Homo sapiens: one gene and its partners. The protein of the gene in region 3 purifies or fractionates together with the protein of the main gene of each other region. This does not show direct contact. Each region holds a gene or a part of one and is shown on either strand. Other genes may lie near its edges. The genes, in order: TIPRL, TENM3, GOLPH3, TSPAN2, RCC1L, VBP1 and GMPPA.

The links.
Region 1: the proteins of GOLPH3 (region 3) and TIPRL fractionate together in Homo sapiens (co-fractionation; one large-scale study listed by BioGRID). This does not show direct contact.
Region 2: the proteins of GOLPH3 (region 3) and TENM3 purify together in Homo sapiens (co-immunoprecipitation; one large-scale study listed by IntAct). This does not show direct contact.
Region 4: the proteins of GOLPH3 (region 3) and TSPAN2 purify together in Homo sapiens (co-immunoprecipitation; one large-scale study listed by IntAct). This does not show direct contact.
Region 5: the proteins of GOLPH3 (region 3) and RCC1L purify together in Homo sapiens (affinity purification with mass spectrometry; 4 studies listed by BioGRID and IntAct, with this or other methods). This does not show direct contact.
Region 6: the proteins of GOLPH3 (region 3) and VBP1 fractionate together in Homo sapiens (co-fractionation; one large-scale study listed by BioGRID). This does not show direct contact.
Region 7: the proteins of GOLPH3 (region 3) and GMPPA purify together in Homo sapiens (affinity purification with mass spectrometry; 4 studies listed by BioGRID and IntAct, with this or other methods). This does not show direct contact.

The regions. Positions count from the first base shown.
Region 1 is NC_000001.11:168,181,962-168,185,461, forward strand, and holds part of TIPRL (TIP41-like protein), read left to right. Parts: intron 1-1,940; coding exon 1,941-2,120; intron 2,121-2,817; coding exon 2,818-2,917; intron 2,918-3,500. UniProt on the Homo sapiens protein: May be a allosteric regulator of serine/threonine-protein phosphatase 2A (PP2A). Isoform 1 inhibits catalytic activity of the PP2A(D) core complex in vitro. The PP2A(C):TIPRL complex does not show phosphatase activity.
Region 2 is NC_000004.12:182,753,902-182,757,401, forward strand, and holds part of TENM3 (teneurin-3), read left to right. Parts: intron 1-483; coding exon 484-1,358; intron 1,359-3,500.
Region 3 is NC_000005.10:32,124,216-32,126,767, reverse strand, and holds the end of GOLPH3 (Golgi phosphoprotein 3), read left to right. Parts: intron 1-131; coding exon 132-556; 3' UTR 557-2,052; downstream 2,053-2,552. UniProt on the Homo sapiens protein: Phosphatidylinositol-4-phosphate-binding protein that links Golgi membranes to the cytoskeleton and may participate in the tensile force required for vesicle budding from the Golgi.
Region 4 is NC_000001.11:115,051,504-115,055,003, reverse strand, and holds part of TSPAN2 (tetraspanin-2), read left to right. Parts: intron 1-1,541; coding exon 1,542-1,625; intron 1,626-3,500. UniProt on the Homo sapiens protein: May play a role in signalling in oligodendrocytes in the early stages of their terminal differentiation into myelin-forming glia and may also function in stabilizing the mature sheath.
Region 5 is NC_000007.14:75,060,303-75,063,802, forward strand, and holds part of RCC1L (RCC1-like G exchanging factor-like protein), read right to left. Parts: intron 3,042-3,500; coding exon 2,990-3,041; intron 990-2,989; coding exon 905-989; intron 1-904. UniProt on the Homo sapiens protein: Guanine nucleotide exchange factor (GEF) for mitochondrial dynamin-related GTPase OPA1. Activates OPA1, by exchanging bound GDP for free GTP, and drives OPA1 and MFN1-dependent mitochondrial fusion. Plays an essential role in mitochondrial ribosome biogenesis.
Region 6 is NC_000023.11:155,236,901-155,240,341, reverse strand, and holds the end of VBP1 (prefoldin subunit 3), read right to left. Parts: intron 1,571-3,441; coding exon 1,500-1,570; 3' UTR 501-1,499; downstream 1-500. UniProt on the Homo sapiens protein: Binds specifically to cytosolic chaperonin (c-CPN) and transfers target proteins to it. Binds to nascent polypeptide chain and promotes folding in an environment in which there are many competing pathways for nonnative proteins.
Region 7 is NC_000002.12:219,497,599-219,501,690, reverse strand, and holds the start of GMPPA (mannose-1-phosphate guanylyltransferase regulatory subunit alpha), read right to left. Parts: upstream 2,801-4,092; 5' UTR 2,753-2,800; exon of another isoform or gene 2,437-2,752; intron 1,736-2,436; 5' UTR 1,716-1,735; coding exon 1,676-1,715; intron 1,571-1,675; coding exon 1,473-1,570; intron 216-1,472; coding exon 112-215; intron 1-111. Other genes in the region: SPEGNB (SPEG neighbor protein), read right to left, coding at 3,502-3,640, 3,830-3,971. UniProt on the Homo sapiens protein: Regulatory subunit of the GMPPA-GMPPB mannose-1-phosphate guanylyltransferase complex; reduces the catalytic activity of GMPPB when part of the complex. Mediates allosteric feedback inhibition of GMPPB catalytic activity upon binding GDP-alpha-D-mannose.

The DNA of each region.
Region 1 (3,500 bases), on a different chromosome or scaffold from region 3:
GCTGAGGCACGAGAATCACTTGAACTTGGGAGGTAGAGGTTGCAGTACGCTGAGATCGTGCCACTGTGCTCCAGCCTGGATGACAGAGTAAGACTCCGTCCCCCACCCTCCGCCAAAAAAAAAAAAATGCCTTTTTTTATATGACAAAAGGAAGACTTACCCTCACCAATCCCAAATTTTTCTGTGATGCATTATCATAGATTGTAAAAACCACTAAGGTGCTAAATAAATTGGTTGGGTAAAATATTGGATTAAAGAAGCTCTTCTAATGAATATTTAAGGCACCTTAAAACCACAGGAGCTTCCTGTCTTCTCTCCTTGTAACTAGTTATACCTGTTTTTAAGTGGGAAGCTTGATGATGTTAGAAATAGGGCATTTTCAGGCCGGGCGCGGTGACTCACGCCTGTAATCCCAGCATTTTGGGAGACCGAGGCAGGTGGATCACCTGAGGTCAGGAGTTCGAGACCAGCCTGGCCAACATGGTGAAACCCTGTTTCTACTAAAAATACAAAAATTAGCCGGGCATGGTGGCACGTGCCTGTAATCCCAGCTCCTAGGAAGGCTGAAACAGGAGGATTGCTTGAATCTGGGAGGCGGAAGTTGCAGTGAGCCAAGATCGTGCCATTGCACTCCAACCTGGGCAACAGAGCGAGACTCCGTCTCAAAAAAAAAAGAGGGCATTTTGGCCTATGTTTAAGAAACTCTATATTTAGAACACTGAAGGACTGTAAATTAGTAACAGTGATTCTTTTACATATATGAGTGGAATATTTTATAGGACTGCCACATTTTTCCAGATATATTGGTTAGAATCCACAGACTCACATATTATTTCACATTTGGTATGCATTATTCAAGTTAAAACTTATTTTATGGAATCTTATGGAATATATATTCCAATTACAGTTTATTGTATCTAATCTTTTAAGTATTTAATATTTTCTATCTCCTAATAACAAAGAATAAATTTTACTTAAAATTATGATGAAAGTTAACATTGTTAGTCCTGAAGACCATTGTTAACATTGTGCAGTCCTGAAGACCTGCACCTCAAAGTTAGATCACTGATATGTGCACACAGAAATACACGTTTAGATGTAATAAATATACAATGTGTGTCCAGTTTTTTTCTTACTATTTTATCATAAGCATTTTTTCATATTATTATAGTCTCTCTTTAAACATTTGTAATGGTTCCATAATATTTCATCATATGGATATACTTTGGTTTGCATAATCATTTGTTGCTTTATAATGAAACATTCAGAGTATTTCTTTTTCATGATTATAAGTAAAGCCATTATAAGTATTAATGTGTATAATATTTTTCTGTACTTGGAATTATTCTTTAGTACAGGTATTCTAAAACTGATACTTTGGGTCATAAGTGTGTAAATTATGTTAAATTCCTGTGATTTTTTTTTTTTTTTGCTTGATTGTTGCCCCAGGGTGAAATGTAAATTGACACAATCCTTCTGAAAGTCTGTGTAGGCAAGTGCTGAGTTCCCTCATCAGTGTCAGGTGCTTTTGCTTTTTTCATCACCACGTTTTGAAACTTTTAACAATTGAGAATTTTAATGGAAAAATTATTTTCCTACAAGAGACAGTATCTTTAATTGCTTTGCTATCTTTTCTTCATACCCTCATGATATATATTATAGTAATATCTGTGTGCTATATATTATAGTAGTATAATAAGCTATTATATTACGTATTTGTATATTTATCTTATTTAGCCCACTACTTAGTACAGTGCCATATGATGATGAAAGAATGGATGATGAAAGCATTTTATAGACCTTGCAAATATATCATATTGATTAAATCATGTGCTGTGTAACTCATTCAGCAAGTAGGAAGAATTCTGTTGGGATGGAAAAGAAACAAAAATGCCAACAGCGATATAAAATTATCTCACCCGACTTTTGGTTACGTATAGATTAGCCGATGAATTACATATGCCATCTCTCCCTGAAATGATGTTTGGAGACAACGTTTTAAGAATCCAGCATGGGTCTGGCTTTGGAATTGAGTTCAATGCTACAGATGCGTTAAGATGTGTAAACAACTACCAAGGAATGCTTAAAGTGGCCTGTGCTGAAGAGTGGCAAGAAAGCAGGTGAGAATCCGGTCAATTAGGTTAAACAAAAAAGGTAATTAGGTTAAACAAAAGAGAAAAGACTTGAAAAAATATTCAGTAATGATACGTGTGTGTTGTTAGAATGAAGGGCTGGTATTATTAAACTTGAGAGTTGTATCATTCTAGAATTCGTTTTTCTCAGACATAAAAATGGAAGTTAATTACCCCACTGCTTGAATACTTGTTAAAGTGAATTACAACTGAGCTGAGCTATGTACGTTTTCGATTTTTCAGTGTTCCTTACTGAAGAGGCAGTAGGCTATACTTAATGTTCCTGTTTTTAAGAAAAAATGTTTACTTATGATATGCTTAATAAATACCCTATTTGAGAAGCATTGAAATTAAGACAACATGTTTTTCTTTGATAGTCAAATCAGCAATTATTTACTTTGTGCCTAATATGTACTAAGTACCTTAGATGATACAAATAAGTATAAACCTTTAAACCATGTCCTCAGGCTGTATACAGACTAATTGAAAAGACTACATCAGTACATGACAAGTTAAATAATAAATGCAGAAAAACTGTAAGAAAAACCTTGTACTGGTGAATTATAACAAGTGTATATATTTAATAGGATATGTTATTATAGAATATAATTTGATGTGATATATAAATACAGATAATCTCTATTCTGCATCACTGAATCTGATCCTTCTCATTTTGGTATTTGAGGACGGAGGGTGAACACTCCAAAGAGGTTATTAAACCATATGATTGGACCTATACAACAGATTATAAGGGAACCTTACTTGGAGAATCTCTTAAGTTAAAGGTAAATCTTACTTTTTTCTTTCATGAGTCATTGATTGTCTTGGACAGTCTGAGCATTAGAACTTTCTAGTAACGGGTTATTTTTTGCAACTATTTTTATCGTCCTTGTTTTCTGTTGTGGCATTCCTCAGAACCTAATGTGAGGGGGTTTTGCTTGTTGACTTATCAGTAGAAAATAAAAGACGGCATTAGTGGAAAAATTTATTTTTAAAAGTGTAGTTGGTGGCAACGGCAGACGGCCTTGTTGTTATCATTATCACTATCAAGAAACATTAAAATGTGTTTCGGGCCTTGGTAATGTATTACATGATTTAGACAGAACCTGCTAGCTTGTAGCTCACAAGTTTATAGATGAACAAATATATGAGCAAAAAGAACTTCTGGTTAGACAAAGTAGGTTTATGCCCTGTCTGCCCTGAGTATGAACCTGAAATGACTTTAGGAAGTTACTTAATTTGAGTCTCAGTTTTATCAATAAATTGGGTAAACAGAAATATCTACCTCAAAGCAGAGTTTTGATGTGAAATAATTTATGGGAAGCTCTCAATAAATTCTAAAGCTCTATATTAGTATTAAGTCCTGTG
Region 2 (3,500 bases), on a different chromosome or scaffold from region 3:
GAAATCTCTAATCTTTTGATTGCATGAGCTCCTTAAGTAGTAGAGAGAACCCACTATGATTAGTGCCAAGGGACTTATATTTAGAAATAGAAACTTTACTGTTGGCCTGATTGAAAACACAATAGAATACTAATCTATTCATAACCTAGAAAGCCCCAACATTTGGTGGTTATTGCTGCCATAAGGAACATGTGTGTTCATAGCTCATCGATATCTGTTGACTCACTACGTAGAGGCCTATTTGCTATTTGCCTGTAACTAGCAAATCTTTCTGTGAGCTGAATTTTAAAATAAAGTGTTATTTCCTGTATCTATCTTCATTCATTACTTTTTGGTTTATTTTACTGAGGCTATTGAAAAAACTATTATCAGACAGTTTATCTCAGATTAATGCCAATTTCCCTGAATGGTCTAATTTACTCTTCTGGCGAATTAACTGTAGTGCAGTAACTTACTAACCAGGCCATTTCTTTTTTTATTAAGGTACGTCTGGAATGGCCCACTGACCTAGCCATTAACCCTATGGATAACTCCATTTATGTCCTGGATAATAATGTAGTTTTACAGATCACTGAAAATCGTCAAGTTCGCATTGCTGCTGGACGGCCCATGCACTGTCAGGTTCCCGGAGTGGAATATCCTGTGGGGAAGCACGCGGTGCAGACAACACTGGAATCAGCCACTGCCATTGCTGTGTCCTACAGTGGGGTCCTGTACATTACTGAAACTGATGAGAAGAAAATTAACCGGATAAGGCAGGTCACAACAGATGGAGAAATCTCCTTAGTGGCCGGAATACCTTCAGAGTGTGACTGCAAAAATGATGCCAACTGTGACTGTTACCAGAGTGGAGATGGCTACGCCAAGGATGCCAAACTCAGTGCCCCATCCTCCCTGGCTGCTTCTCCAGATGGTACACTGTATATTGCAGATCTAGGGAATATCCGGATCCGGGCTGTGTCAAAGAATAAGCCTTTACTTAACTCTATGAACTTCTATGAAGTTGCGTCTCCAACTGATCAAGAACTCTACATCTTTGACATCAATGGTACTCACCAATATACTGTAAGTTTAGTCACTGGTGATTACCTTTACAATTTTAGCTACAGCAATGACAATGATATTACTGCTGTGACAGACAGCAATGGCAACACCCTTAGAATTAGACGGGACCCAAATCGCATGCCAGTTCGAGTGGTGTCTCCTGATAACCAAGTGATATGGTTGACAATAGGAACAAATGGATGTTTGAAAAGCATGACTGCTCAAGGACTGGAATTAGTTTTGTTTACTTACCATGGCAATAGTGGCCTTTTAGCCACTAAAAGTGATGAAACTGGATGGACAACGTTTTTTGAGTAAGTATATGAAAATTCTACTCTGATTATAAAATACTGTGATATAATAATATCATCTATAATAACAATATAATCTTAAGAGCTGGAGGATTCCATGTTTTTGAGAGTCTAGAGCTTCTGTAATTTTTGGATCCCGGCTGGGCACGGTGGCTCATTCCCGTAGTCTCAGCTCCTGGGGAGGCTGAGACGGGAGGATTGCTTGAGCCCAGGACTTCGAGGCCACAGTGAGCTATGATTGTGCCACTGCACTCCAGGCTGAGTGACAGAGCCAGAACGTATCTCTAAAGAAAAAAAAATGGCCGGGCGCAGTGGCTCACGCCTGTAATCCCAGCACTTTGGGAGGCCGAGGCGGGCGGATCACGAGGTCAGAAGATCGAGACCATCCTGGATAACACGGTGAAACCCCCGTCTCTACTAAAAATACAAAAAAAATAGCCGGGCGTGGTGGCGGGCGCCTGTAGTCCCAGCTACTCGGGAGGCTGAGGCAGGAGAATGGCGTGAACCCGGGAGGCGCAGCTTGCAGTGAGCCGAGATCGCGCCACTGCACTCCAGTCTCTGGGCGACAGAGCGAGACTCCGCCTCAAAAAAAAAAAGATACCTCTTTCTGAGAAAGAAGACAAAATTGCAAGATACAAGATGTAGGGCCTTGGAAAGGGAAGGGACTCGTGTAAGGGAGAAGCCCAAAGCTTAAGTTTCAGTTGGCTTCATGGTAAATTTACCTGTACTTAAGGATTAACATCTTGCTTCCAATAGACCTAGCATCTTAGCAAACCTTCTGAGAAGCATCCCGCAGCTGTGGTTTGGGGCATAAAGCCTTTGGCTCTAGGTTTGCCCACCTGATAAAGCTGACTGTCTCAGGAACTTGCATTGAAGAAAAACTTCAAAAACATTTACAGTGAACTTTGCTGATTACGTAGAAGGGCTTAAGTTTTTGTAATCGTTACCAGAGAAGCTACACTGTGCCTCAAAGAACCTTACAACTAAATGCAAGTCAGGAATTGCAGTTTGTTGCCTGAAAGCATGTGAAGAGGTAGGAGGCTCATTCAGCCAGGGTGTTCCAAGAGATAGCATGGAGTGGTGGCCCGGGCACTGTGCTGTCTGAACAGTCACATCTTGGGAGTCACTGAGAATGAAAGGAGAATCAGCTGTTGAGTATGTTAGGGCATGTATAAATGCATTCTCAATTGCTTGTTCACTTGACTCGGTTGTACAAGCCATGAGGGGAAATGAGATATGCAGAGATGGCATGTTGACAAACGCAAAATAGTCTTTGAAATGAATCCTGAGTTCCTTAGTGTGGTTTTCACAATGATACGGTGAAGCAAAGGTACTTCTTTCTGTAGGAGCACACCTCTGAAATTATCATAAAAGTCAGTAGAAAAAATGACTCAATATACAAATATTTTCTGTATAGCTTTTCTGGAATGTGTCTTATACATAAAGCTTAGTTCTCCTGTAGCTTGAATTGCTTTTCTTTTTTGACAGATTCCCTTTTAATAAAATGAATGTTAGCCAGCAGCATGATTTTGTCAGAGGAACAAACCTTTTCAATTGAATTACATTAAAATTCTGTTCTTAGCATTCCTTTTGCTCATTTTAGTATCGCAATAGGAAAGGAATAAATTGGAAGTTAATGGAAAGCACTTCCTTTGCACTGTTTTCAAAGTGATCGCAGGCTAGATTGCCAACGAAGCAAAAAAGAGCACAAGAAAAGTGCTGCCATCAGATGAGACTGGGCAGGAGAGCTGCTCTGATTCTAAGATCTTCAGGAGGCCGGGCGCGGTGGCTCACACCTGTAATCCCAGCACTTTGGGAGGCCGAGGCAGGCGGATCACGAGGTCAGGAGATCAAGACCATCCTGGCTAACACGGTGAAACCCTGTCTCTACTAAAAATACAAAAAATTCGCCAGGCGTGGTGGCAGGTGCCTATAGTGCCAGCTAGTTGGGAGGCTGAGGCAGAAGAATGGCATGAACCCGGGAGGTGGAGGTTGCAGTGAGCTGAGATGGTGCCACTGCACTCCAGCCTGGGTGACAGAGTGAGACTCCGTCTCAAAAAAAAAAAAAAAAAAAAAAAAAAGATCTTCAGGAGATGGTGGCGGCATTGGTAGGGTTTCAGTTTAGTTGAAAGTGGGGGAAACATA
Region 3 (2,552 bases):
GAGAAAAACATGGCAGATTTTCTTCTGTTTTTCTTGGGGCAAAATCAGATTTTACTGTTTAATAGTACAAAATTTTTGCAAAATTAGCAGATAATACTCATCATTTCTAACTTCTGAAATCTTTTGTTTAGGTGAGACATGGAATCCATTAAAATTGCATTATCAGTTAAGAAATGTACGGGAACGATTAGCTAAAAACCTGGTGGAAAAGGGTGTATTGACAACAGAGAAACAGAACTTCCTACTTTTTGACATGACAACACATCCCCTCACCAATAACAACATTAAGCAGCGCCTCATCAAGAAAGTACAGGAAGCCGTTCTTGACAAATGGGTGAATGACCCTCACCGCATGGACAGGCGCTTGCTGGCCCTCATTTACCTGGCTCATGCCTCGGACGTCCTGGAGAATGCTTTTGCTCCTCTTCTGGACGAGCAGTATGATTTGGCTACCAAGAGAGTGCGGCAGCTTCTCGACTTAGACCCTGAAGTGGAATGTCTGAAGGCCAACACCAATGAGGTTCTGTGGGCGGTGGTGGCGGCGTTCACCAAGTAACTCTGCTCGGGGTGAACCATTCTCCTTTCTCTCAAGTAAACCAGTAGTTTTTCTTCTGTTGACTTCTGGTTTTCTGTAATTTGTACTTTCCCACACTATAATTGGCTTCTGTTTTACAAAATGGTGGGTGGCTTTTTCTTTTTTGTACGTGTACAGGATTCTGCTGGTACGAGAGGCCTTCCTCTTTCTGTTTTTAAAAAAAGTTTTACTGCCATATTGGCATTCCATTCCCTGTTGCCATCCTCACTGTTACCTGTTTTGGGTTTCTGGTCTACTTTGACTTTCAAAGTACCTCCAGCCTCCTCATACGCACAGCTTTTGGATGACCTCAGCTTGAGTTTCTCCATATGTGCATGTACATCTAGCATTCTGCCTACAGTTCAGACAGAAGTCACAAAAAGGCCTTCAACTCACCAAAGGTAAATATCTGTATCTATTAGGACATTTTTTACATAGACTTCAGTTGAGATGTATACTTAGCAAAATTATTTTTAAATTGAAACAGCACAGTAAATACTTAATATAAAATGTCCCTTGGATTTTGCTTCCCATGTAAATCTATTGTATTATTACACTTGTTATAATTTTAACTATAAAGGTCCAATTGTTTCACAGAGCCAGTTTGGGATGGGCTGCATTCCATTTATGCTGTATATAGTTTGAATTATATATAAATTACCCCTTCTTCTGGCCACCCCTGCTCCCATCTTAGTATTTTGCAAGATCTAATCAGTTGTACACCTGGTGCCCCTCGCTTGCTTCAATCATGGTTATTTGATGGCAAAATCGACCTCTTGTCGCTGAAGGAGAGAGAAAAGATGTGTGTCTGATTGGTCCTGGGATTTTTTGAGCTGTGCCATTTATGGTACTCTTTGCCTATGCATCCCCTTGTTAGATTTTTTTTAAATTTTATCTTACTGTTTTTATAATTTCTATTGGGAAGAGGCTTGTGACCAGTACCAATCTTGAGTTTCTTTTTCTGTCCACAAGTAAATTAATATCTGCTCTGAAATGTCATTTATCTACTCACACATTCTTGGGGAAAAAAATCAAATGTCAGTCCTAGCAGATGTTGCATGTAAATTGGTAGCAAGTAATGATTACAACCCAGAGGATTAAGAATTTTGTAACAGAAAGCTCTATGTTTTAATTTTTTATATACAATTAGGATAATTAGCATTGTCAGACTATAAACCTTTGCTTTTTAAAGTTTATTTTTACTATTTCTTTATCACTTTATTGTATCATCACCATTGGTTTCATAATGTAAATACTATATGTTGAACAAATTAAATGTCAAAATTTTTTATTACCATAGTCCATGTTAATAGTGGGGCTTTCAGGTGTTTAGAGATTTTTTTTGTTGTTGTTAACATTCATTGCAAAAGTACTAGATGGTGTATAACTCTAGAGTTGAATTTTAAGGGATTCCCTAATATGTATACTATCTTTTTATCTGAAGTAATAAATAAACAATGATCTTGAAAGTGCCTGAATCAGAGCAAGCATGTCATTTGTGTTTTTGTATTCTCATTTAGTTTTCTTTCAAATGAAATGTTACTTACTGTAGCATTGTAATATTTTAATGCAGGGCTTGGGTTTCTTAAAGGGCCAGATAGTAGATATTTTAGGCTTTGTGAGCCGCCAGCTGTGTCAGTTGCAACTACTGAACTTTACTGAATGAAAACTGTTATAGATAATACAAATAAATAGGTTAGACTGTGTTCCAATAAAACTTTATTTGCAAAAACGGGGCTGGTCAAGGCCCCAGTTTTAATGCATGGAAAAAAGACAGATTTTTCTATCCATTGGAGTAACCTTCTTTACCTTCAAAAATGATACTGCTGGTGGTAACTACATGTAGGAACTATTAAAGTGTCTTCCCATAAAGTAGATATTGGGAAACTGATACCAGTATACTGGAATTTCTTATCGAGTGAAAAGTTCCTGTTTTTCACTTGAGAAGATGTTAGAGGTGAGGTAATAGATTTCTGAG
Region 4 (3,500 bases), on a different chromosome or scaffold from region 3:
ATTTATTTATTTATTTTGAGACAGAGTCTCACTCTGTTGCCCAGGCTGGAGTGTAGTGGCATGATCTCGGCTCACTGCAACCTCCACCTCCCAGGTTCAAGTGATCCTCCTGCCTCAGCCCCGCTAGTAGCTGGGATTACAGGTAGGTGCCACCATGCCCGGCTAATTTTTTTATTTTCAGTAGAGACGGGGTTTCACCATGTTGGCCAGGCTGGTCTCGATCTCCTGACCTTAGGTGATCCACGCATCTCGGCCTCCCAAGTGCTGGGATTACAGGCTTGAGCCACCGCGCCCAGCCATGAGGTTAACTTTCAACAGAGAAGGGCACCTCTTTGGCTCTGATCAGAGAAAAAGGAGTCAGGAGTGTGCTTGCTACCTACAGCAATGCCTGGCACTGAAGGAAGGGAGCATCTAAGTGTATAGGAGAAGGAGAGGAAGAGTGAAAGAATTGCTATAGGTTGACTCTCATTTTTTCCACTAAGTAAGGGAGCCACTCCTTAGAAGAGTAGTTTTCAAACTTTTGTCAGAATGCATTATAGGTATCTCTTGTGGATCTGTGTCCTCTAAACTGTGAATTCCCAGAAAGCAGGAGAAACCATATCCTATTGTCTCTGCATCTACCACCCCTCTTCCAGTGACTAATGCAAGGTAGATGCTCAAGAAATGTTTGTTGAATGAATGAAGTGTGATAGGAAATACGAAGAGAGAAGTAAGGGTTTTATATAGCTCAGATGGTATCAAAGGAACCAACCAGTGACAAGTGAACAGATCTGAACAACCTGAGGGTACAGTTGGATTGAGAGCATCCCTCTACTTAAGAGCACTCCAAATAGGAGTGTTTGAAGTTGGAGAAACTAATAATAGTTACAGGTGATCTATTTGGCTTTCTGTCTAAGTTTCCCCACATCCATGAAGGCCCTTTGAATCTATGCTGCACAGGTGTCTTATGGGCACAGATGAAAGGATAGGAACTCACCCAGCACAGCCCAGCCCAGCCACCACAGGAGAGAATGGTCCTCTAGCTCCAAGACTTGGCTTTTCTAATTCTTGGCTTTCCTTTGTTTAACTTGAACCTGTTAAGACTTTTTAGTTTCTTAATAGGTCATGCCTACTTTGCATAGTAAATTGGGTCAAAGACATAGAAAGTATTTTAAACTGTAAATGACAATATGAAAACAAAGAGTTATTGTTTTAAGGGTATTTTACTTATTTGCTACAAGTAAGAAGTGGCTCCAAATTTTTAGATTCCTTGGAACCAGACAAATAGCTTCCTCCAGTTATATTTCAGGGCTCCGAAGAAGCCACTGGCCTAAACATGAAAATCTCACCCAAAGGAGAGGCTTCTATTTTTTTCCCCAAACTGCATTTTTGCATTAAGCTTATTAGGATGATGTTATCAAAGATGAATTGTTGAAACATGAGTAGAAGCTGGCATGGATTAACTCTCACAGAATGAACTGTAGAGATGGAAAGGATAGGATCAGGATAATGACTGACACATACAATCAGTTTTTATTCCCGACTTTTTTTCCTCAAAACAGAATTGCATCGATGAAATTGAGACCATAATCAGTGTTAAGCTCCAGCTCATTGGAATTGTCGGTATTGGAATTGCAGGTCTGACGGTGAGAAAGTTCTAGAACTTACCCTTTTTGCCCTCTAAAAAGCCTTGAAACTTTGCATCTTATTTCTTTTCAAGTGTGATAGTATCTTAAGAGAGAATTCTCATAAAGAAAAAAGACCTTTGTTCACAATGTATTACATCTTCTAAGAACAAAGCTCATAAATATATTAATAGTTTGTCCTCTAAAATATAATAGAAATTTCAACTTTAACTCATTATGACCTTGAGTGTGTCATTGTTATTAACTTCCCGTTTTAAGGCTACTATCCATAACCTAGATAAATGATTTTCAGTTCTGGGTCTCTTTCTACTGTTACAAATTCAATGCAACATATCAGGTTAATCTCTCTCACCTACGATTTGAAGAGGCAGCAGAGCATAGAGATTAATAGGGCGAGCTCTGGCATCACATGGTTTGGATTTAACTCTAGGCTCCACCATTTGCAAGCTCTGAGATCGCAGGAAAATTTCTTAATTTTTCTATACCTCAATTTCCTCGTCTGTTAATATATAAACCTTATAGGATTGCCGTGAAAATTAAATGGGATACTACATATACAGTAGTATTACAAATTAATATAAATAAAGTGTCTGGGACATATAACACTCAACAAATGCCAGCTCTCTGCATAATCTACCAGGCAAAGGCAATGGCATAGATGGTATTAAGCGTAGTGCATCCAGACCACCACCAGGTGGCTCTGTACTTCTAAAGTACAAAAGAAGAGTGTGTGGGAAGAATGGATAGCAGCGGACAGGTATGGCAGGAGTTGCGAGAGGTGGTAATGGAGAGAGTATTCGATCTACATCATTGAGATCTTTGTATGCCCCTTTGAAAGGGTGGGCTTCACCCTTAAGGAAAGGGGAGTCACCAAGAGTTGGAAGAACCTGTGGTAGAGGATAGAGGAAAGGTTGGAGGGAGGCAAGATTGGATTTGGAAGGCGGGTTAAAGGATGATTTCCATTGTCCAGGGGTTGGATGATAATAGCTAATGCTAAGATGGCACTTAGTCTCTAGCCCTCTATGTAGATTAATTCATGGCCTAAACTAAGGCAAGGGCTGTGGGAATTGTGAGGAAATCAGTGAATTTGCAGTTATCAGGGGACACACAAGCGCCTTCCCCTTTTCTGTATTTAGAGCACAGAGGGGTGGAGAAGTGGCTGGAAATACTCTGCTGAGGCCCTCCAAATCAAGGGACATTTCTCAGGTCCTCCCCACCTGCTCTGGGGATAGCCTGGCTGCAGTTCTGCAGCTCCCCAAAGGACAGTCCTGAGGCAGGTCTGAGCGTGTGCTGCATAATGGAGAGTTTCACAATCTCAGCAAATGAGCAGCCTAGAAGCATTCACCCCTGACTCGTGTCGGCAGTAGGCTGAGACTGAAGGAGTCTCACTGAAACCAGGATGGGTAGGGATTACATCCAACCTTATGGCAATGATAAAGGGGAAATGCCCATAGTGAGCCTATCTTGAGTCGGCACCCCCAGGTTTCTTCGTTAGTTCTTTTCTCTGTAAAGTGAGAGTTGCACAATGTAATCAGCTAACTAAAAGTGCATTGGGTGTCGCCCGTGCTACACACTGGTACTGAGTCCTGTCATCCAGAAGCTTGAAATCCTGTTCCTGGCCATGCCCTTACCTGCTTCTGCCCCTCCCTTTTCAAAACAACTGATCATTCATATCTTATTGAATTTAGCACTTACAGATCCTAGTCTGACTTAGGATGGAATTGAGGAGAGAACCAGAAAGTTATAGTACCCATTTTTTAAAATAAGCATTGACAGTAGTTTATGGAATGGTGCCCACAGATAGGGTTCCATGGGCTCTACAAAATTGTAGGGGAAATAATAGCGGACAAGAAGACTCTTTGGCATTCTTCTATT
Region 5 (3,500 bases), on a different chromosome or scaffold from region 3:
CTGGATGAAGGCAAGAGTCTACAGTTCAGTGCTCTGCCTTGGGCTGCTGGCCAGGGGTTACCCCCATACCAAGTGCCAATAATGACATTTGCCTTTGGGCAGGTCCTGCCTGTCCTTTTCTCTGCAGTTTGTGTTTGTTTGTTTTTGAGACAGAGTCTTGCTCTGTTGTCCAGGCTGGAGTGCAATGGCGCGATCTTGGCTCACAGCAACCTCCGCCTCCCGGGTTCAAGCCATTCTCCTGCCTCAGCCTTCCTAGTAGCTGGGATTACAGCCGTGTGCCACCACACCCAGCTAATTTTTGTATTTTTAGTAGAGATGGGGTTTCGCCATGGTGGCCAAGCTGGTCTCAAACTCCTGACCTCAAGTGATCCGCCCACCTCGGCCTCCCAAAGTGCTGGGATTACAGGTGTGAGCCACTGCACCCAGCCTTCTCTCAGTTCATTTCTATGGGAGCCAGGGCTGAGGGGAATGGAAGGGATGCAAAAAAAAAGTATTACAGCAGGGCACAGTGGCTCCTGCCTGGAATCCCAGCCCACCAAGAGGCCACAGCAGGCAGACTGCTTAAGGTCAGGAGTTCAAGACCAGCCTGGGCAACATGGCGAAACCCTGTTGTTACAAAAAATTAGCTGGGCTTGGTGGCTCACACCTGTTGTCCCAGCTACTCTGGAGACTGTGGTGGGAGGATCACCTGAGCCTGGGAGTTTGAGACTGCAGTGAGATGTGATCGCGCCACTGCACTCCAGCTTGGGCGATGGAGCCAAGAATAGTGTTCCTCAGAAAGTGATAAGAGGTAAGAGCTGAATTAAGGAAGAAGGGTTCTAGCCCATAAATGCCCTACAGCTCACAGCTCCACATGACACGGGCTGAGAAGTTTCACGACCCCAGTGCATGAAAAGAACTCTACCTGTTTGCCCATCAGCACCCCATCCACAAGAATAGACTTCTCCTTTATCCGTCAGGAACAGACTATGATCCTGACCACAGGCGACCTAGCAGACAAACAGAGGTAAGGGGGATGAGAGGAAATACTTAGAACCCTGGTGTCCTCATCCAAAGAAGGACCAGCACCATCGCCTGCCGCTCCTGGGCACCTGGAGCATGGTCCAGGCAGACTGCTCCATGCTCATCTTACTCCTTCTCAATCTACCAGTCTCCCACTGCATTGAAACTGCTCTTGTTAAAGTAAAATGCAGATCTCCAAAGGGGCAAATCCAAGAGCTCTGCCATCCATCCCACGCCATCTCCAAAGAACCACCCCTTCTCCATAACCCTTCTCCTCCCAGCCCTCTCTTCTACTTTCACAGCTTCCAGCCTTGCTCACACACTCAGCCTCTACTTCAGACCCTTTGCTGTTGGGATCTCTCTCCAGGGTGTGTCTCCTGCCCTCCTCTCTCCTCACTCCTCATGCTACCCTGGGAGATGGGAGCCATTCTCAATGCTTAACTGTGGCCTCTGCACTGTGATCTCTGGTCTCAACAACTCTCCTCAGTTCCAAACTCATTTTTCTAACTGCCTAAAGAAAAGCACCATCTATTGAACAATTTTTACACCAGGCATTGTGTTAAGTCAATAACCAAAACCACCTAGTAAGAAACTGAATCTCAGCTGGGCACAGTGACTCACTCCTGTAATCCCAACACGTTGAGAGGCCAAGGCAGGTGGATCACTTGAGGTCAGGAGTTCAAGACCAGCCTGGCCAACATGGTGAAACCCCATCTCTACTAAAAATACAAAAATTAGCCAGGTATGGTGGCACATGCCTGTAATCCCAGCAACTCGGGAGTCTGAGGCACGAGAATCGCTTGAACCCAGGAGGCAGAGGTTGCTCTGAGCTGAGATTGTGCCACTGCACTAAAATAAAAAAAAAGAAAAAGAAACTATCTTGGAGATGTCTGGTAACTTGCACAAAGTCACTCAGTCTAATAGGTGAAGGAGGCCTGACATGGTGGCTTAACCCATAATCCCAACAGTTTGGGCAGCCAAGGCGGGAGGATGGCTTGAGGCCAAGAGTTTGAGACCAGCCTGGCCAGCACAGTGAGAATCTGTCTCTTTAAAATAATTAGCCGAGGATGGTGATGCACACCTGTAGACCCAGCTACACAGGGGGCTGAGGCAAGATCACTTGAGCCCAAGAGTTCAAGGCTGCAGTGAGCTATGATCGTGCCACTGCATTCCAGCCTAGGCAACAGAATGAGACCCTGCCTCTAAAAAATTTCCAAATAAAACCAAAAAGCCAGCCGTATCACAGTATGATTAGTGCTGTGGTGTTCTAAGCCAGCTGTATTTTGCTCTCCATTTTATTCTCATCCCCAGAATAGTGCCTGGCTCATGGTAGGTACCTATCATAAATATTTCAATGCACATATGCATGAATACAGCAAGTGCTGTGATACTTTTGCCTCAGCCTCCCCAGAGGCTGACGTTACAGGTGTGAGCCACCACATCCGGCCTCAGTTAGCTTTTTAACTTGTTCACTCACTAGAGTGTCATCCCCAAAAATCTGTTTTTTTTTGAGACAGAGTCTTGCTCTGTCATCCAGGCTGGAGTGCAGTGGTGCAATCTCTCAGCTCATTGCAGCCTCCACCTCCCAGGTTCAAGCAATTCCTGTGCCTCAGCCTCCTGAGTAGCTGGGATTACAGGCATGTGCCACCACACCCGGCTAATTTTTGTATTTTTAGTAAAGACGGGGTTTCACCATGTTGGCCAGGGTGGTCTGGAACTCCTGACTTCAGGTGATCCACCTGTCTCGGCCTCCCAAAGTGCTGGCATTACAGGTATAGCCACCACACCCGGCCCCAAAATCTTATTAAACTTTGTATCCCTAGAATCTAGCATAAATCCTGGCCTATAGTAAGTAGGCTACAATTTTTACTAAAATAATTTAATTCAGAAAATCCCCCTAACAAATTTGCCATCACCCTACCCAAATCTCAACTTTTCAAAAGCACCCCAGGAACACAACAAGCAGCTCTCGGCCCATCTCTCTTACCTGGACCACCTGGCCATCGAAGTCCTGCATCCTGTGGACTCTGTGACTTTCACTACAGCCAGGAACAAATTGGGAAGAAGCAAGGGATGCGGTCATGACAAGCACTGTGCAGCCCTTTCCCTGTCACCCCAACTGATGGCCCGTCCCCTCCGCTCACACAGTAACTGTTGGGGTAACTCTCAAGGTCAAATCTTAGGTCGAGTCAGGCCTGGTCATGAAAGTAAAGCCAAACAAAATCCTAGGTGATTTTAACACATGGCCAAAGTTGAGAGTGGTGTTAAGGCCCTCCAACAACATACAAGGAACTAGAGGGAAGTGTTTTTAAACACTAAAATGAAAAGAACTCACCGGGCGCGGTGGGTCACGCCTGTAATTCCAGCACTTTTAGAGGCCGAGGTGGGCGGATCACTTGAGGTCAGGAGTTTGAAACCAGCCTGGCCAACATGAAGAAACCCCATCTCTACTAAAAATACAAAAAATTAGCCAAGTGCGGTGGCGGACGCCTGTAATC
Region 6 (3,441 bases), on a different chromosome or scaffold from region 3:
TTTGCAGATCTGTATTCCTTCCACAGGGATTTTATGGTGTTTCTAGAAATATAAGTTGTTCTTGGAACATGCTAGTATATGTACAAGTAAACTTTACAAATACGTGAAAAGACCCATGTTAACTTTAAAAAGGTGTTATTGTCTGAATCTTTGTGTCACCCCAAAATTGTTATGTTAAAATCTTAACCCCCAAGGTGATGGTATTAGGAGGTGGGGCTTTTGGGAGGTGAGTAGGTCATAAGGGCAGAGCCCTCATGATGAGATTAGTGCCAAATTAAAGAGGCCCAAGGGAGCTCCTTGCCCCTTCTGCCACATGAGGGCACAGTGAAAAGGTGCCGTTTACGAACCAGGACACAGCCCTTACCAGACACCAAATCTGCCAGCACCTTGATCTTGGACTTCCCAGCCTCCAGAACTGGGAGAGATAAATTTCTGCTGTTTATAAGCCCCCCACTCTGTGGTATTCTGTTATAGCAGCCCAAACATAGTAAGACAAAGAGTAACATGAAAAAAGTGCTCTGCCATAGTTTTAGCATCACTGTTTTAATTTCATGAAATACAAGTACAAAACATTGTATAAGTATACTTTTTACTACATGGAGATGAACTAATACATTTATGTTTTTATCAGAATCTGTATCACCCAGCGCTGGTCAATGTACTAGTAGCTTTCCACAGGGATTTTTTATACTATTCCTATAAGGTTTTATCATGAATAAAAAAGCTCACAACTCTTTTCAGCCATTGCAGATTCACATTTATCTTAATATTCCTGTTCAAGATGCTCTGGAGAACTGTTAAGAACTACAAAATCACCTTAGGCAGAGTTTTGAATGAGTAATTTTATTTCACGTTGGCCAAGATCTCCCTTATGTTGGCATTGCAAAGACACTGCACTTATCTGAGGTTAGAAAAAATGTAGTCTTAATAGCCCTCTTAATGTGTAGCAAGGCAAATTACCATTTCCTAAAATGTCCAGAATATCATAGTAGTTAGTTATTCGTTAAGCAGTAAGTCATGAAACTCCACTTATAGAAGACAATAGCAACAGAGGACCACTAAGTCCTAAATATACCAAAGAAAAACAAGTTTACAAATATTCAAACTGTCTGTCTTCTCTACCTCTAAAATGGTTTAACCACATCAAGTGAGAGTAACATCAGCCAATTAGAAAGGGAAAAAGTAAACTGTGCTAGCGTCCGGCATTCAGCTTCCATAGCATGTCTCACAGTTTTCGGCCATTTCAGCTAAGAGTTTTCTTATGACAGGCAAAAATAATGATTAAAATACCATTAGCTTTGCTGAGAAATGTGGAAAAAAAAATCACAATGTCAAAAATATTTGAAACTAATTTTGTTTTTATAAATAAATAAAATGGTGTTTATCTTTTCTTAAAATTCTTGCTGTTAAAACATTCAAAGTTATGTCAACCTGTAAGGATAAAGGGGTATTTAAGATAACATGTTTGGAAAACTAAACCACATTTTTAATTGCCAGCATTATGCTTTGTTCTTGGTAGAGTCATCCTTGTTTCTTCTTTTTACATCCCAATTATAAACCCTGGCCATATCTGCAAGAATTGTCAAAGAAAATGCAAATGCAATTCTAAAGATAATGCATGCAATGACTAAGTATTCACTCCACTCACACAATGAATCAAAGACACAGAAATGAAACATATACAAATACTGGTAACAAATAGTATTGTAAGACATCCTGCTATAATGTCAATTGTTAGGAAAATACTATAATTAAACTCTATCAAAACTAAGGACTCAAATTAATTGTTAACCCATTGTTTACTATGGTATTAGTCAACTGTCAGCTAGTCAACTATGATATATTTAACAAATATGTACTAGACACTCTCGATAGTTTTAAAGACAGTCCCTCATCCAAGAAATCTGAAAGATCACTCAACCCATATCCTGCCATGTAATATTTATATTATTACAATTATCAATAATTTTATCTCTTACCCTCCCTTTGGCTTAACAAGTTTATTAAGCATCTACTGTATTTTTGACTAGGCACTGTACAAAGCCCTGACCTGAATAAGACAGGTGAAGTTCTTTTCCTCGTGGAGCTTAGACTCCAGTAGAATGTCAATGTAACAGAGACTGTCCACCCTAGCTCCCTCACTTGTCTGCACACCTTCCTTTCCTACCTTTTGCAGTACTAGCAATAACAAATGGCATTTAACTAAGCTTGTAGGACTCATCTTAGAGGATTTCCTCACTTTTGGCTCCTGTACCCATCTAAGTCACTGGATCCTGTTTTTTTCTCACACGTTTAATATCTTTTCCTTTCCACAAGCCACCCGTCCTAGGCCCTCGTCATCTCATAGCTGGATGAAGTTTCCACACTACCCGTCAGATGATGATGACCACTGCACTAGGCCCCAACAGGCCTGCCTTCCCTCAGCCAACCATAAACAACTGCCACATGCTGCACACTGGAAAAGAAGAGAAAGTGCAGCTCCTACATCTGAAGAGCTCACGGTTTGGCAAGGTAAAACTAAGCAGTATGTGTTAAGCAAGCACACAAGAAACACTCTGAGGATCAGAAAATGTTCAGGAAAGCTCTGATGCTTGGACTGAGATATTTAGGGTAAAAGGGTAAAAAAAGAGCACATCCTGTAAATATGGGAAAGTCATTCCAGTTAGGAGGAACAAAGTGTAGAAATGCAAAGGGTGTGGCACAATTGGGGAGTGTGTACAATAACTGACTGGGGTTATCTGGAACCTGGAATGCACTGGGGAAAGGCAAGAAGAGGTCAGTGGCATGAGGTGAGACAAGCTGGGGGCACTTCACAAGAGTGCCTATATGTATATCTTGTAAGTAACAAGGAACCGTTGAAATATTGTAACCAGAGGAATAAAAATGAGTGACCTAGTAAATTCATACTAGAGATAGTGGGAAGGACAGATGGAATGAGAGGAACCTAAAAAGGTTCTGAGTGCAGGTTTTGGAGCCCCAGAACGAGAACAGTAATGGGCAGAGAGATTTATGAGGGAAATTTGATGTGAATCTGGCGACTGATTTATTATTGGTAGTGAGGAAGAGAGAAGTGTGAAAGGTGACTCCCGTGATTTTGTCTTGAGTGACTGTGACAGGAAGTAGGAGGAAAAGACAGGCCAGAGAAGAAAGGCAAAGAGCTTGCCTTCCCCCTTGACCAGAATACCCCACTCCCACCTCTTCTCTCTGCTGATCTTTAAACCCTACGCCGCCTTTAAAAAAGCAGCCTAACTTTTATCTTCTCAACAAAGCCTTCTTTGAACTAAGTCCAGCCTACATCTATCTTTCCCAAAGTTTAAATTGCCTTGGTGTTGCATATGTTAACTTACTTATAGTTTGCTATGAATTATCATTCAGCTGTTTTACATGTACAGTTCTACCAGAGAAAGGCACTGCCACTCTTTTCTAAAATTGATTTTCATG
Region 7 (4,092 bases), on a different chromosome or scaffold from region 3:
CCTTCTAGTAGGCGAGGATGAACTCCAGCAAATGCTGACTCAACCCACTTCCAAGAACTCAGAGGCCTAGGGCATCCCCACCCCCCCATATACGAGTGTGTGCACAAACACCTGACTGGAAGGTTAAACTCCTGCTGGGCGGCTTCTAGGAACTGGGTGAGGGGCTCATCAGGTTGGTAGAAGCCAATGAGCAGAATCTCCTGCATTCCAGGGACCTGAGGACAAGGGAAGAGGCTGGGATGAAGAATATCTAATAGGAGGGGATGTTGGGGAAATCCTTGGTGCTGGCCCAAAGTCCAGAAACCAGTTTCAGTCTCAGCTGTGGGGCCCCAGGGCACTCACCACTCTGGGCTATTTTCTCCTCTGGACAATGAGGAATTTGGAGGAAGTCGGAGGCCTGATCTTTTTTCGTTTTGTTTTATTTTTGTGAAAAAGGGTCTCGCTCTGTTGCCCAGGCTGGAGTGCAGTGGCATGATTTTGGCTCACTGCAGCCTCCACGTCCTGGGCTCAAGCGATCCTCCCACCTCAGCCTCCTGAGTATTGAAGACTACAGCCATGTCACCACCTGCCTCAGCCTCTAGAGCAGCTAGGACTACAGCCAGGCCATCACATCTAGCTAATTTTTAAACTTTTTGTAGAGAAGGGGTCTCTTGATGTTGCCAAAGCTAGGCTAGAACTCCTGGCCTCAAGCGATCCTCCTGACTCGGCCTCAAAAAGCGTTGGGATTACAGACATGAGCTACCATGCCAGGCCTGATCTTTCAATCAATTATTACCCCCACCAACCTGAACTGGGACTCACTCTAAGAAAGACTTTGCCTACCAAGCTGCATTAATCCATTTCCACCCCGCCCCCTCCCCCCCGGCCATTTTTATTATCTGTCAGCCTAAGCTTGAGATCAGCATGAGGTAAGGGTACCATTTATCAAGGGTCTGCGTTGTACTAGGCATTTTACAAATATCATTTCTAAGCTTCACCACCCAACAAGGTAGGTCTAATCACCCCCATTTTACACATAAGGAAACTGAGTGTCAGAGAGGGTGTGTTATTTGTTGCAGACCTCACAGCAGGCAGAGACTGAATTCAAACCAAAACCTTGCCTGGCTCAATACGAAAAGCAATAAAGAAATGAGCAACAATGTGATCAAGGATATGAATTTGTGCTTGGTTATCATTAAGAGTCTCCATGCTACGGCTTTACATTGTCTCCAAGATCCTTGCCTGATCTCACATTCCACACTTTAAAAATAGGAGTGAAATCTGAGCAGGAAGAGGCCAGATGAGAAACTAGATTAGGGGAAGACAGCAGGGCAGCTGCACAGCATAACTTGAGGGGGCGCCATTCACATTGTCATCTGTGAATGATGGTCCTTGGAGTTATGCCTGGTGGGAAGAGTTCATGGTTGGGAAAGGGGGAAACAGCATGAAGATAAGCAGGAAGTGAGGTGAGAGAGGGGAGCCCCTGAGGTTACCTGGGCACAGGCTTCAATATGGTGTTGGATCATAGGGACCCCTGCCACAGGAAACAATGGTTTGGGCACCTCAAAAGACAAAGGTCTGAAGCGAGTTCCTGGGAGAGGAGAGAGGAGAACATTTCGGCCTCCTGCCTTCCTCTGCCCCCATCCCGCCTACCACTCCAGCCCAACCTCCTCCCCCCATTCCCCTGGCACCTCACCCTTTTGAGGGCCTCCAATCAGGATCACCGCTTTGAGCATAATGGTGACTGCTACCTAAACTTCAAATTCCAACAGAGAAATCAAGCTCAGATCTCCTACCCCAACCAAGCCCCAAAACCCAAATAGCAACACTTAGCCCTCTCCCAAGATGTAAACCCAAAGCTCAATATAGTCTCTGCCTGGACCCAACACCTCACAAATCCCACACATCTCAAATCCCAGCAGAGAAATCAAGCTCAGATCTCACACCCCAACCAAACCCCAAACCCCAAATAGCAGCACTTAGCCCTCCCCCAAGATGTAAACCCAAAGCTCAATATAGTCCCTGCCTGGACAGAACCTCACAAATCCCACACATCTCAAATCCCAACCCAGATTCCAGTCGGCCTTCAAACCTCACAGTGATTCCTCCCAAATTCTGAAATTCACACCCCACAATTTGATCTCTAAAAGACTTCCCTCTGGCCATGAACAAATTCTGCAAATTCAGAAACCTGGCAGAGACTCCCTTCTCAGACCCAAACCTCAAAATACTGAAGCCTCAAATTCCCAAAGTGTTGCGTCTTCATTCTAGATATTAAGCCCTGAACCCCAATAGTGAACCCTGAATATTGGACAGCAAACCCTGAGTGAGCCTCAGATATTTAACTTAAATCCTGAACGTAATCCCCAAGTACTGAACTAACACTGATCTGAATTTGAAGAACCCCTAATCCCAGCAAAAATCCTCTATATGCTAAACATGAATCCTAAAACTAACCTCTGTATGTTGAACCCCAAATCAAAAGACAGGTTCCCTTGGCATCTCAAACACTGAACCTATTGACCCCCCTCCAGTCCTAATACGGACGACTGGGTCTAAATCTCTGGATTCGGAGGATTGATTGATTGCTGACCCTCTGAACCCCACAACTGACTCTGTCCAATAAACCCTGGCCTCTCATTGCCAGGGATTGTGGGACCAACACAGGGGCGGGCGCACCGAGGGCCAGCCAGGACCTCGGAGCCCGCTCTCCGTCTAGAGGGTGTCCCCTGCCCCTTACCCCTGCCGCCACCCCTCCACCAGCTCCCTTTACCACTAGCTCCCTTCACTCCAGCTCTGCCGCCCGCTACTGCAAGCTCCTTCCGCGCACGTGTCTTCTCGCAAGTCGCGAGAACTCATTCGCAGGGTCTGCCGGGAATTGTAGTCTGACCCTTTACCCGCTTTCTAACTTTATGGGAGAGGAAAGAGGTGCTGAAGTCCAGGGGTGTGACCAAGGGATCGCGGGGCGGGGTTAAATGCGAAGAAGGGTGGGGCCTGAGAAGCCCAGCCTGGAACTTAAGACTGGGACCCGAGCTGTTGGGGAATCGGCCTCGGGGCAGCAGCCGAAGTGAGGAACTGGGTCCCACAGGAAAACGGGACTAAGGACAGCAGGGGTGTGTGGCCAGCCCTGGAAGGGGCGGGGCCAGGGGCAAACAGCCACAAGGGGCTGGGGCTGGAGGCGCTCAAAAGCGGAGAAGGCGGAGTCCCAGGCCCAGCCGGCGGTACCGCTGGGAAGTGAGGGCGCCTTGGACGGCGAGGGCAACTCTTATCAGTTTGACTGTCTGAAATGCAGCACGGCGCTAGGCGCTCTCCAGACCTCCCTGTGACTCCAACAGGCTGTGACCTTGGCGTGGGGGTCTGGAATACGTGTGGGCGCTGGTGCGGGGGAGAGGGAATGGCGACGCGGAAGAGCAGGACAGACGCGGAGGGTCAGAGAGCAGCTTTATTAAGCAAGCTGGTGGAGGGCTGTGGGTCCCACCACCCCCGGGCTCGGCGCCAGGGCGGAAGGTCCGGGGGTGCCGTTCAGGCCACGTCGACGCGAGCGAAGCTCTGGTCCATGCCCAGGCTGTTCTCCACGTACACCTCGTACTTGCCGCTGTCCTGAGGCGTGGCCCGGCGAATGGTCAGCGTCGTGGTGGTGCTGCCGATCTCGAAGAACACCCTGCGGAAGGGCGGCGGGGAGGAGGGCGGAGCCGTGGTCAGTACACGGGCGCACTGGGCGGGGCTCCTTAGCCAGCTCTGTTCCTCGCTGCCCAGTCCCCGCCCCCGTCACTCCAGCCAGATTTCTGGGCTCAGTCCCACCCAGGTTCCAGCCCCAGGCCCTGGCCGTGCCGCAGGTCCCGGCCCTCGCCTGTCATCCTCCTCGATGTCCTCCCCGTCCTTGGTCCAGCCTACGTCGGGCGCAGGCTCTCCCAGGATCTCCGCAGTCAGCGTCACGGTGGTGCCTTTGCGCGCCTTAGTGTTGTCGGGTCCCTTTTGAATCTTCGTCGGGACTAGCGGAAGGAAAGGGGAGCGAAACCCCGTGAAGGACCCGGAGATGAGGCAGGGCATCACCTCACCGGCTAATACCCGGCACTAAATACAGATGCATTTAAACTCGCAGTGTGACGTTGA